Linked DNA regions of Homo sapiens. The protein of the gene in region 1 interacts with the protein of each later gene in a pairwise test. Each region holds a gene or a part of one and is shown in the gene's direction. Other genes may lie near its edges.

Region 1 (6,277 bases):
GACCAGCCTGGGCAACATAGTAAGACCCTATCTCTACAAAAAATTTAAAAATTAGCTGGGCATAATGGTGCACACCTGTAGTTCCAGCTACTCTGGGGGCTGAGGTGGGAGGATCTCTTGAGCCACTATACTCCAGCCTGAGTGACAGAGTGAGACCCTGTCTCAAAGAAAAATGAAAGAAATGAATTTCATGTTTAGACTTGCATATGCATTCCCAAGATATCTCATTGTGTATATGCAAATATTCCAAAATCTGAAATTTGAAACATTTCAGATAAGGGATGCTCAGCCTGTATCACCATTTACTATCACCATCATTTTGTATTGAAGAAAGATACTTCAAATCTCCAGAAGTAGGAGGGGTATAATCCCAGAACTCCGGTGTGTTTTCAGTTAAACAGTGGCATTTCAGAAGCACCTGCCCCCATCCCTGACATTTTCTTCATGTTTGCTGGGACCACTCAGAAATCAGAAGGTGCCTTCAGCAGGCTGGGCCAGCCACCCAGGGACACAGCCAGGGACAGTGGGAGGGCTGGGCCTGAGCCTGGACTCCTGCACTGAAGGCTGGGCTGTCCCCTCCAGCCTACAGCTCATGTGTGACTTTGGGAAAGGAGTTGGGCCCTCTGGTCTTTTTGCTCCCTGGGTAAAGTCAGCGGGGGGTGCTGCTCCACATTCCCTCCGGGGTTCATAGGGGTCACGGGAGGATCTGGAGGCTGGGCTGGCCTGCTAAAGGGACCAGCCACTTTTTGGAGTGACATTCCAGCTGGAAGCGTCCATCCCACCCCAGGTGTGAGGGGGGAAGCAGAGGGTGTCACATACTGTGACAGAGGTGGGGTCATGCTGCCAACCCCACTCTGAACCCCAGCTCATCGAGCGGTCCCCCCGCACCCTGCCACGCTCCATCACGTACGTGAGCATCATCATCTTCATCATGGGTGCCAGCATCCACCTGGTGGGTGACTCTGTCAACCACCGCCTGCTCTTCAGTGGCTACCAGCACCACCTGTCTGTCCGTGAGAACCCCATCATCAAGAATCTCAAGCCGGAGACGCTGGTGAGGCCACCTCCTGCTCCCTGCCTGTAAGCCCTAGGAGCACAGTCTGTCCTGGGAGGCTGAAGAAATGGCCCCCACCCCTCGCCGCACCTGTCCTTTCACCAAAGGCATTCTGCTAGGTGAGGGCACTGTCGCCTGCCCCAAGCTAGGATGCTCAAGTGTTCTTAGGAAGTGGTGCACAGACTGCCTCCCACCTGGGCCCCTGTAACAGAAGGCGAGGCCCCGGGTAGGGAATAAGGCAGTGGGGGAGGCCTGGGACTGGGAGAAGGGTGGTCAGAGGGGATGCTTGGGGCCCCAGCACCTCCCTGGACTGACATCGACATCCCCCGACTCTGCCCTGCCCGTTCCTCCCTCAGATCGACTCCTTTGAGCTGCTCTACTATTATGATGAGTACCTGGGTCACTGCATGTGGTGAGTGATGGGCCCATCTGTCTATCCCAGGGGCCCCAACTACCGGCTAGCCCTGTCACTGGCTCAGGGACACACTGAGCAAGGCTGTCTGGGCTGCGGGTCTCCATGTGTTGAGTCTCATCCCCTGTAAAGGCACTGTGAGCTCAACCTCCAGTGAAGTTGTCCCCGAGGTTGCCCGGGAGACCCAGCTGCTGTCCCAGGCTCCAGGCCCCGGCTTCCAGCCAGCATCCCCCCAGCATCGCCACCCCCGCCCAGCCCTCAGTGCCCGCTGTGGCCAGCAGAGGGCAGCGAGTGGCTTTGGTCCTTCCTCGCCAAGCCTGAGCCCTGAGGGTGGGGGAGGAGGACGCGTCCCTGATAAACAACCCCCAGATGGTGATGGCAGGGGGTGGGGGCACAGCCAGGGACCCCCACCCGTGTCGGGCCTGCTCTTTGGGAGTGGAGGAAGCTGCGGGGAGCCAGCTGGATCAGGCTGGGGAGGGGCGTGCTGTTTGCGCTCCCCCCTCTTCAGAACTCCCAGAGGGGCACCTTTTCCTACCTACCCCGTCCCTCAGTCGGGGGAGACCTCAGAAATGTGGTCTCAGCCTCAGGAGATCCCGGGCCCAGGCTGGGAGGCTTCATCTGTTCCACCCTCCCATCTTACCCAGGAGAAACTGAGGCCAGAGGGAGGAGGGCTCCGAAGGCTGCAGCTGGGAGGTGAGGGCCAGCCCTGGACCCGGCTCACTCCTGAGTTGGTGCTCACAGCACACGCACCCTGCACGGGCATTTCCAGGGTGTTTCGGGCCCTGCGATGTCAATCCTCCTGGCTCAGCTGGTCCAGGGTCCCTGGACAGGCCTCCTGCCATCTTTCCCTGGCCTTTGCCAGAGCCTCTTCCCACAGAAGGTTGGGGAAGGGTGGAGGGGCTAGGAACAGAGAGCTGGAGCCCCAGCAGGAAGGGGGTGTGGGTGAGAAGAGGCAGGCGGGTATACTGGTGAAAGCACAGGTGGGAGAAAGGGAGCCGGTGTGTGGAGAGGGGAGAGGGTAGTATTTTGGGGTGAGGTGTCTGAGGTGGGGGTGGGGCTGTGTGCTGAGAGTGGGTGCAGTGCTTCACCAAGAGGCCCCTGCAGGTGCTGTTCTCTTTTTTAACATGTGGACCTCCATCCTCAGCCCGGGAGGTGCCTCTGTCTCCAGGCTAGTGTGGTGCTGGGCTGCTGGTGTCTGCGGTGCATGAGACAGACAACCCCCCAGACACCCCTTACCCCCACGGAGTGAGTGAGGTGCCCTGGGCGGTGTGGATGCCTCTGGGCCTCTGACTCACACGTGCGTTGCCTTCCTGTTTCTGTTTCTGTCCCACCTTTGACGCCCAGCACAGGCAAGGTTGGGTGGAGAGGAGCGCCTCTCACCCAGGCTAGGCGTTTTGTAAACTGTGACGTGGCACTCCATGAGACCCCATGGGAGTGGTTGCAGAGGTTGTGGGGAAGAGGGCCGCTGAGCAGGCCTCTAAGACACTGGCCTTCCTGTCACAGGTACATCCCCTTCTTCCTCATCCTCTTCATGTACTTCAGCGGCTGCTTTACTGCCTCTAAAGCTGAGAGCTTGATTCCAGGGCCTGCCCTGCTCCTGGTGGCACCCAGTGGCCTGTACTACTGGTGAGTGGACATCAGCATGGGGGCAGAGGCAGGGGCACTGAGAGAGCCACGGCAGCAAAATTCTGCACTTGCCAATGGACCTGCTGTGTGGCCCCAGGGAGACTGGCCCTCTTTGGGCCCGTGCTTCTTCTTGTGTCTAGTGGGGACTGTGACAATGCCCTGTGGTGGCCTCTTTGTTTCCATGAAGCCCAGGCCTGGGTGTGGCAGGGAGGTGGGAGGAGAGGGCGAGGTTGCACAGTCTGTCTCCATCCTCAAGCCCCTCTCGCTCTGTGCCCCATCTCAAGAACCCCAGTGTTGCCCTGGGGCCGGTACAATCCACCTCCGACACCAAGCCCTGTAGTGGGCTGCGGTTTCCACCTCTGTGAAGTGGGGATGATGGTACCTGCCTGTCTGCCTCTCAGATGATGAGGATGCTGAGGACAGAGAGGGGCTTTGTCAAATGTAAAGCACTATGGCGAGGCCAGACTGGGGGGTTTCATGGCGTAGGGGCTTCTGGCCTTGGGTCTTTGTTCCCTCTGGCTCTCTCTTCTTCCCATTGCAGAGGACTTAGGCCTCAGCCAGTCTCCTAGCCCTCGTCTGTCACTTCTGCCCTGGAGACAGGTCACCCTGGGATTGTGGGTATCATGGGAAGGACAGGGTCGGGGCAGGACTGGACCCTTCTCTGATGGGAGGCCTCCCTCAAAATGAAAAGGGCCTCCTTTCCTGGGCCAGCTCTAGATCCTCTCCCCGGCCTGTCCCCTATGTGGCTGAGATGGCCCACTGGGGCTCATCTGTATGCTCTCTGGGGATTAAAAAGAATGGGTGGCAGCTACAGTGAGCGGGAAAGACGTTAGGGGAGCGCTTCCTGCTGGTTCTTACCCCGGCATCCTGCCGCGGGGGTGGCTGCCGTCGTAATGGCAATTGTTTGTTGCTTTCTCCTCTAGTCAGTTTTTGTTGTGTGGAAGTATAAACTTAATGTGACCAGAGAAGCCAGAAATATACATTTGTAGGTATTCTGTTATTTAAATATTGGCAACAAACTCAACATTTAAAAAACAGTAACTATACCAGCTAAATCAATATGCTGCCCATGGGCTGTGGCTTAGAGCGGCATAGTTCTCTGAGCCCTGGCACCAGAGGACTCTTCTGCCTGCCTGGAGGGCAGCCTGGCTCTCGCACACAGGAAGGGATGCCAGGCAGGACGGGGTTGCCACGGCAGCTGCCTCACTCACCCCTGGCCTTTCCAGGTACCTGGTCACCGAGGGCCAGATCTTCATCCTCTTCATCTTCACCTTCTTCGCCATGCTGGCCCTCGTCCTGCACCAGAAGCGCAAGCGCCTCTTCCTGGACAGCAACGGCCTCTTCCTCTTCTCCTCCTTCGCACTGACCCTCTTGCTTGTGGCGCTCTGGGTCGCCTGGCTGTGGAATGACCCTGTTCTCAGGAAGAAGTACCCGGGTGTCATCTACGTCCCTGAGCCCTGGGCTTTCTACACCCTTCACGTCAGCAGTCGGCACTGAGTCCCTGGCACCAGGCTCTGGCGCTCTGCTGGGTGGGAGGGTGGGCCATGGAGGGCATCTGAATACAGGAGTAGGGGGGGTGTGGGTGTGTAACCAGAGACCGAGAGCATGAGTGGGGTGTGCCTCGTGTGCGTGGATTCGTGTGTGTGTGTGTGTGTGTCTTGTATATGTGTGCGCAGAGTGCATCATTTTCAGACTCTACTATTTCCGTCAAGTTTCTGTTTGATTTGGATCATCTCAGGATCGGATTCTGTTTTAGAGTGTTTCTGGGCCAGGATCCGGGCCCCTGCCCTCCTCTGCACCTGACCACACTCCCTACTCAGGGCTAGTCTGTTCTTCCCGGACATCTTCTGGTAGCCGTGCAGGAGAGGGCTGGGTGGGGCAGAGGCCAGGAGGGGACCTGGTGTGTCACCTGCCCACCACCTGGCTCATCCCTCAGGCCCACCCTGACCCTACATTACATAGGTTACGTCAGCCTACTGTGGCTGTTGAGCAAAGCATTTCTCCTTTCTGGGCCTCATTTGCACTAGATGGGCCTGTGGTCCCAAAGTAGGTCAGTAGGTTGGGGTTGCTGACACCCCTTGGGTGCAGCTTTGGGACAGATGAGTGGCTCTGTCCTGTCACTGCCCTCTCCCTGCCTGGGGGCTATGTGCACTCCAGACCCCTGCCCAGGCTCAGGCCCATGAGGTATGGAGACACCCTGGCCCCCAGGAGCTGGAGGCACCGCCCACTCCCCTGGCATTCCAGCTTTGCAGGTGACCCTCCTCTACCCAAAGCTCTGTCCCCCTGCTCCCACTCCAGAAGAACTGCGGCACGCGCTTCGGGCAGCCTAGCCACAGGCTTTGAGCGCCTGCATTCCTGGGGGCTGGAGGGTGGGGTGCCAAAGGCCCTGAGCAAAAGCCAGAGCTCCTCTCATCAAAGCCTTTACAAGGTGCTGGGCCCAGAGGCTTTGCCTTGACAGAGTGGCCCAGGGTTTCAAGGGAGGAGGAACCTCCCCCTACCTAGGACCCTTCCTGTGGGGGGTCTACAGAGTCAGGGACAGAAGGGAAGGGACCCACAGGAAGTCACAGTGGTGCCCAGGGATGTGTCAGCCCCCAGCCACGGGGACGCGGGATTCAAGAATGAAGTAAATACAGTCACAGCCCCAAGTGGTGTTAGAGGTGTTTTTTGTCTTTTCTCCCTTTCGTGCTGAGGTGTAGCACACACGGTGCGCCCTACAGCATGGTGAGTTGCTGTATCGTGAACCCTCACGCAGCCATTGCCCCACGCTGGTGTTTTCCATCTGTGCGTCACCCCCGGAGACACCTACACACATAAGGAGGGAGTTGGCCGGGGCACCCCAGCACACACTGGCCTAACTCCAAGGAGGCACCTCATCTCTTCTGGAGCCCCTTCCCACAGGCAAGGGGATTCAGAGGGAGCATGTTGGCCTGGCCGCCTTCAGGCTTCCAGAGTCCCAAGTGACTTTCCTTGATGTCCTTCTCTCCATCCTCTGCACAGAGGCAGCCTTCCCTCCTCTTATCCCTGCCATGGGGTTTGGGAGGGGGAGCCTCAAACTCTGACAGGGAGGAGTCGGAGTCCCCAGCTAAAATTCTCTGGGTCTAGAAACAGGTGTAAAGCGATTCTGGGGATGTGATTTGGGAGAAAAGCACACTTTCCACACAGAGGCGGTCAGGAAAGGAGCGGGG
Region 2 (7,040 bases), on another chromosome or scaffold:
GGAGGGAGAGGAAGTTTGTTATGGTGCAGGGCTTGCTTGTGTGTGCATGCATGTACTGTCACTGAGCATGCCTCAAGAACTTTCTGTGTGCGCAGGATCCTGGACCTTTTTGCCTAGAGGCCTGGAGTGATGGAGAGAGATGGGGAGGCCATCAGTTACAGTGCAGCACAACACCTGCTCCCTGGTGGGTACTTGGGATCAGAGAGGAGGGGCTGCTTGGTGGAGAGCAACAGAAGGCTTTGAAGGGGAAAGTTGAGCTGAGTCTTGCAGGATGGGCAGGAGTTTCCCAGTCAGAAGGGACTCTGGAATAGGGTGAAGAAGGACATTTCAGGCAGAGGAAGTAGCTTACGCAAAGGCAGGAAGCATGGGAGGATGTGGCATGTTTGGGGAGCTGCAAATAGTTTCATGTGGGTGTGTGTGGGGGTGTGGCGGGTGAGGAGGCTGGCAAGGCGGGCTGGGCCAGAGCCTGGATCTGTCCCTCCCTCTGCCATGCAGACACTCAGTTGGTGCCTGCCCACCTGGGCTCTGGCCCCTGCTGGGGCCTGAGGCTGCAGAAAGGGAGTGCAAGGTGAGTGTGTGGGCAAATTCATGCAGTATTATGTGGGCCACTCCAAAAGAGCCTTGCCTATTGGCTTGTGAATTTAGTTTCATCCTAGAGGTAAATTGGGAGCCATTGAGAGGTTCTGAGCAAGATGACCACATGTGTTCTGGTGTCTTTTGGCTACTGAAGAGGATGTTGAGCTGGGAGTCCCATAAGGCCTGCTGAAGCGTTCCCAGGAAAGACCCTGGAACTCAAACCCAGGCAAGCCAGCTGTAGAAAGGAAGAGAATAAGTGACCTTTCATCCGTTTCTCCATATGACTTATGTAGATGTTTCTTTTGCACAGCACAGGTTGGTAGGGTCAGGGACATGAAGATAGGCTTTGTGGCAGGCAGTGTCTCTTGGCTTGTCAGCAGGAGGCCTGCCAGATAACTTCCTGCCTATCTGGTCATTCTCAAGTCTTGGCGTGTGAGTAGGGCAGTTCCACCATCTAGAGACAAGAGATGGTATTGCAGTGATCTCCTGTGCCTCTGGGTGGGGTGGGAGGAGCTTCAGGCCAAAAGAAGTGACTGTGTGCAAGGTAGACTTATGGAGGGCAAGAAAGTTTACAGCAAAATACTGGGGGAGAAGAGAGTGCCACTGAGCCACGCTGAAAGGCTCTTCAAGAGGGTATTTGAACCGGAAGGACAGGCAGGGAGGAGCTGCATATTCAGAGGTTTGGGTGGTCGGGCATTCTAGGCCATGGACAGTTGTTTGGACTGTGTCATAGCTACTAATAACCACAATTATGGGGCATTTGCTGAATGCTGGACCCAGGCTAAGCTCTCGTGAAGTTTCTTGTTTAATATGGCAGTTCTGTAAGTAGATATTGAGGAACTGGGGCTCCCAGAACCCAAGGGACTTGTCTAGAATCACACGACTCAGATTCGCACCGTGGCCTGCCTCTCTCAAGCTGTGTTTCTGACCACTACACCCGGTTGCCTGCTACTAAAGCTCTGAGCCAGGTTTGGATGCCGTAGGCTTCAAGGGGGCTGCAAGGGGACCAGAGCTGCAGACAGTTGAGGGTGACCGTTAGGGTCTGCTTAGAAGTGAGAGCCTGGAATAGGTGCCCAAGTCCCAGGCAAACTGTGACTAAAAGGAAGGCCTGGGTTGGCCTGAGTAGAGGAGGCCATTCAGGGCTGAGAAACCCCCAGGGGATTTCAGAGAGGGCTTGGAAAGGGCTGTAATGGGAGGGAGAGGTGAGAACAGGTAATAATGACTTCACAGTGCTGGGAAGGAGGGCTGGGGAGAGGAGTAAGTGGAGGTAGAGGGAGAAGCCTGTTTAAACTTAGGGGTCATCCCTGTGAAGGTGAACTGCTGGCAAAAAAAATTTTTTTGCGGTGGGTAGGGAGAAAGGAGCCTTTAGAGTTGAGCAAAACCCAGGATTGAGGGTACAAGGTCTGTGCTGAATCTCTTGGATTCAAGATCATATGTCTCTGAGGGCCCAGTCTGAAGGCTGGTACAGACTTAGGCACCTGGAAAGCTGACGTGGGAAACAGGTAGCAGTAGGTGAGACAAAGTGAGGCCTCTTGATGCCAGGAGGAGAAATGAGTACTGGGCCTTGCAGCATTCATTCAGTCCTAGGAAGTGTTGGAGGCTCACATAGGAGCCTTACATGGCTGAGGTTTCTGGGAGCCAGAGGAGGGAAATTAGGTAGGGAGGCAAGCAGAGTGGGAAGTGCAGGCACTAGCAACCTACAGAGATTTGGAGGGGAACCAGTGGTCTTGGCTTTTAGCCAGGAAGGGACTTAGGAAGTGGGATAGGTCCCTGGATGGGCCATGGGTTGCAGAAGAAGTCTAGAGGCTCTGGTGATGGTAGCTGGCCCTGCCAGAGGGGTGGGGAGGATGATCTCTTCACAGAATTTCACCAGCAACCCAGATGTCAGTGATCCCAATCCTATGTCCTGACAGGTGCTTCCTGCAGCCCCTCCTCAGCCACTTGCCAGGTCCTGACCCTGCAAGCATGTGTGTAAACACACACACACGTGTTCTTGCTTTCCTAGGGCATGACCGTGGAGGGCTCTGAGCTCTTTATTACCACTCCTCAGTTTTGCTCCCTTGCCTGCCATAATTTCTCTGCCTGTAAAGCCTGCTCTTCTCCAGGAGATAGGAGGGAAATTAGCTAATAGGATTTTGCTGGACCCAGGCTGCAGGATCAGCCACTGTACAGTTCTGCTGGTGGCCCTGGGGCGTGGGGGCTGACAGAGGGTCTTATGGTGGGGTGGAAGGGCCCCCTCAGTGGAGCCATGTGGAGGGTGATGGTTCAGAGGTCCTCTCCGCCCTTCCCTCTCCTGGCCTCCAGAAGGGCAGAGACCAAGTCTAACCCCTCACTATGATCCCTGGGTTTCCACAGGGCATGGCATGTTTGTTGAAGGAATAGATGAGAGTCCTGTGGTACGATGCCACAGGCAGGGGCCATAGGTGGGTTCCAGTAAGAAAATAGCTAGCTGTGTCCTGGTATCTGGGGCTGCATGGCTTGTCAGAGCTGCTGGTTCTTTTAGGCCTGATCTGGCACAGTCCCAGGAGGAAGGAGGTCTGAGGGCCTCCTTCCTTTGGCCAACTCTCACACCCATGCTTTGCTTCCCCAGGTGCCCCCTGATAAGTGCCGATGTGCCGTGGGCAGCATCCTGAGTGAAGGTGAGGAATCGCCCTCCCCTGAGCTCATCGACCTCTACCAGAAATTTGGCTTCAAGGTGTTCTCCTTCCCGGCACCCAGCCATGTGGTGACAGCCACCTTCCCCTACACCACCATTCTGTCCATCTGGCTGGCTACCCGCCGTGTCCATCCTGCCTTGGACACCTACATCAAGGTGAGGCACAGGCCTGGGGTGTGTGTGTTGGGGACAGCCAGGCCCCTTGGGTGGAGCTGAGGAGGACTGCCTAGAATGGGAGGAAGAAGTGGTTTTGGGAGAGCAGCACCCTGGGGCCCTCATGGAACAGGTACCTGTGGAGCTAGGAAGATGGGCAGAGGTTGTTGGCATCTCTTTCAGATGCCCAAGATCTTTTGGAAGCCGGAGCATATCCCAAGAGCATGGAGAACTTGTTCATAAATCTGATCTGGTTAGTTTGGCTCTGGCTTTGACCAAAGACATCCATAGTGCTTATCCCACACTCCTGGCTCAGATGAATGGACAGGCCACTTTATTCTCATCCTGCTGGAGGCCTGCAAAGCAAGGACCTGAGGCTCCCAGTGTCTGGGCAGGCCCCAGGTAATCATGTATTGCCCGTGGCCCTGCCTGTGCATGGGCTTATACATCTGCTCCCAGAGGCCAGGGCTGGGACAGCAGTGGCAGGCTCTGTTTCCTTTACTTCCTGACTTGGTTACTGGCAATGCTGGCAGCCCAACCTTCCTGGAGGAAGGAGAGCCAGTCACCTGGTCATCTGACGGGTTTCTGTGTCTACAGAAATTTTTTTAAAACTTGCCCTGTTACACATCCCTCCTCCCCTAAACGTTTTGTAAACTTGGTTGCTAGGGAAATGACCCCAGTTTGGGCTTGGACGTGATTGTTCATTCATTTAACTTGTATTTATAGTCTGTGTGCCAGGTGCTATAATGGGCACAATGTGAATGAAACGTTGGTGCATGAAACAGCCATTCACAGTGAGGTGGTGAAGATAGGTAATAAATATCAGACAAAAATAGGACGTGTGCTAGAGAAGGAGAGGGTGAGAAAAGTCAGGGAACCAACTTGGACAGAATGGTCAGGGACAGCCTCTCAGAGGAGATAACCTCAAGGCAGAGTCCTAGAAGAGCCTTTAGAGAGGAGATAAGAACTTCTAGTCAGAGCTTTGGTCTAAATGCAGCAGGAAGTCACTGCAGTGTTCCAACCAGGAAAATAACACAGTTGGAGCCACGTCTGTACAAGATGAGCTGTCCCATCTCTGGGCAGGGTGGGACTGGACCACAGATCTGGGACCAGGTGGAGATGCTTAGGCCTGGGGCTAAGGAATTAGCCTAGGAGGCTGTCATGAATCCCATTGTGAGTGGTGGCAGCTTGGGCAGGCCCAGCGGCTATAGAGCTGTGGACAAGGATGGAGATTTACAATCACTTTTGGGATAGAACTGATAGACTTTGGGTGGATTCACTGTTGTGGAAGGAGAGGCAGTGAGGGAGTCACAGAGGGCTCTGCTCCCCTCTGGCCTGGGCAGGTGGGCAAGTATGTAGTGATGCTTTCACTGACATGTGGGGAACTGAGGGAGGCCCTGGTTTTGGGGGGAAGGTAGCTATTTGGGCTATGTCAGGGGAGCTGCCTGAGATACATCTAAGTTGGGGGGTGTGGAGTCAGCAATGGTATGTGTGGCCTGGAGTTGAGGAAAGGCTGGGCTGGTGGATATATTTGGGGACATCAGCCTGTTGGCAGTATTTGACCTGGGAGGCTGCCCTGTGCCTCCCTGCCTCTGTGGGACCAGGTAGGCAGTGGACAGCCTGTGGCAGCAAAGGCTGCGCAGAGGGCGTGGCCAGTGTGGCAGGGGTCAGGGAACAGGACGAGAGTCAGTGGGAGTGAGAGCCTGGTACACTTGGAGGATCCTTGCAACTTTGTTCACCAAAGCAGCTTGGGGAAAGGGACACAGCGTTGATGATGGAAATGGGAGTTCAGATGTCCCTGGAGTCTGGTGTTGGGGCTGAGGAATGAATAAATGAGGCCCTGGGTCACCAGCTGTGTCCTTGGCGGTCAAAGACAGGTTTGAAGAATCAGGAGTGAGAAGACCTGGAAAGGGGAGGGCTGTCACGGTGATAAGGCAAGGGCACAGGGAGAATAGAGGGGAGTTTCCTTTGTGAGCTGGAGGGTGGTGGCCAAAAGGGGTGTGGGGCAGGATGTGCTTGCCTGGCTGCGGTTGGACTGGAGGTGGGGGCGGGCTGGCTGGTGGTGTGGGCAGGAAGGAAGATACCAGTGCCCTAGGCCTGCTTAGTGTGCTGCCTCTGGGGAGTCCCGCCCCATTTCATTCAAGGAAGGCCTCTCCAGTCCTGTCGGTGCCATCCTCAACCTCATGGGCCCATCTGGAGGGGCACCCCTGGGAAAGAGACTTCTTGGGTTCCAGACCTCAGAACAGGACATGTGGCATGTGGTGTGGTGGTGAGCAACTCAGCCACCAAAGCCTTTTCCTGGCTTCAGGGGTTTATTTTTAGACACCTTTGTCCAAATTTCCCGGCCCCTGACAGCTTCACAAGTTGCCTGGTTTTGACGTCACCTCTTTGATGAAAGCCCTTCCTCCTTCCTCCCCGCTCCCATGGGAGCCTGTCAGCTGTGCTCCTGGAGTGGGGGTTGAGACAAGGAAGCCAGTGATATGGGGGAGAGCAAGGGGCTTCTCCCAGAGACAGGTGTGAGGCATGCTTGTGTGGGCTTGGCCATCAGCGGGGAGAGTAAGATAGAGGCCGGCTGCCCACAGAAGAGGCATGGCCGAAGGTCCTGGGCTTGTTTTGGCAGCAGGGTGTGGGGGTTGCCTCTGCCCCTGTGTTTAGCCTGACCTTGCGTCTTGGGGAACAAAGCCAGGGGAGAGATGAGGAAGGGGCTAGCTCTGTTTGCTGGTCACAGCCTGCAGTGGACAGGGGTGGCCCTGTGCCTCTCTCAGCCCAGGAGACAGCAAGGAGAGAGTATAAGGCTCCCTTCCATCCCTGCCTTCATCTCCCCTGCCCTGAGGTCAGAGAAAGGAGATTACTAATGAGACTAGTTGCGTCTCACTCTTCTAGCACCGACAGCTTTTAACTGTGTGTGCGTGCGCGTGTGTACACCCTTCTTTTTCTCTCTGGATCTGGGACTGCTGTGAAGGCTCTTCAAATGGAATGACAGCAGCCGTCAGCTTTCTGCTTTGGCAGGGGTGAGAGAGGCCAGGAGCCCTGCTGCCAGGAGTTGCGGGGGGAGGACTTGGCAGGCTCACCAGCCTCTCCAGAGGCTAGGTGAGGGGCAGGGGTGAATGGATCTTAGCTTCGGGTTTGGGAGGTGGAGAGCAGCTGCTGTCCCGGGAGTTGCAGATGTGCCTGAGCCTGGAACAGGATTGGTCTCATGGGACAGAGGGACCTGAAGTTCACGGCGAGAGGCCCAAGGAGAAGCACTTGTCAGGACTCTCGGGATTCTGGAAGGGATGGCTGATCTCAGCTTTCCTGGTTTGCATGGCAGCCTCTGGCTCTCTGGCTAGCCTTCCCCAGCTTGGCAGCCTGGCAAACTGCTATAGATGCTGGAACTCTGCCTTTCTCCATATAAACTGCTAAGGGCCCCCAGGCTGAACACTCATTCCCCTGGAATCCATGCGTACTGTGTGACCATCACTCCATATGGAAGATGCCTCAGCTTTGTCAGGCTGCTCCGCTGGAGTCCAAGGAGGTGGCCTCTAGTACAGGAGGAGACCACTCCCCAAGTCCCAGGAAAGGGGTATCTTCTGGAAGCTGCAGGATGGAACAGAGCTTGCTTGAAATTGCAAACCTGCAGAGGGGAGATGGGGCCCAGATGTGAGCCCAGAGCAAT

Evidence for each region. Proteins that work in one complex are often made in the same cells at the same time.
Region 2: the proteins of CLN6 (region 1) and TEX264 interact in binary tests that used the Homo sapiens proteins (3 or more experiments, as listed by UniProt).

The regions. Positions count from the first base shown.
Region 1 is NC_000015.10:68,206,452-68,212,728, reverse strand, and holds the end of CLN6 (ceroid-lipofuscinosis neuronal protein 6), read left to right. Parts: intron 1-865; coding exon 866-1,054; intron 1,055-1,410; coding exon 1,411-1,466; intron 1,467-2,969; coding exon 2,970-3,092; intron 3,093-4,318; coding exon 4,319-4,589; 3' UTR 4,590-5,737; downstream 5,738-6,277.
Region 2 is NC_000003.12:51,681,247-51,688,286, forward strand, and holds part of TEX264 (testis-expressed protein 264), read left to right. Parts: intron 1-95; exon of another isoform or gene 96-139; coding exon of another isoform or gene 140-184; intron 185-3,166; coding exon 3,167-3,388; intron 3,389-3,568; coding exon of another isoform or gene 3,569-3,628; exon of another isoform or gene 3,629-7,040. UniProt on the Homo sapiens protein: Major reticulophagy (also called ER-phagy) receptor that acts independently of other candidate reticulophagy receptors to remodel subdomains of the endoplasmic reticulum into autophagosomes upon nutrient stress, which then fuse with lysosomes for endoplasmic reticulum turnover.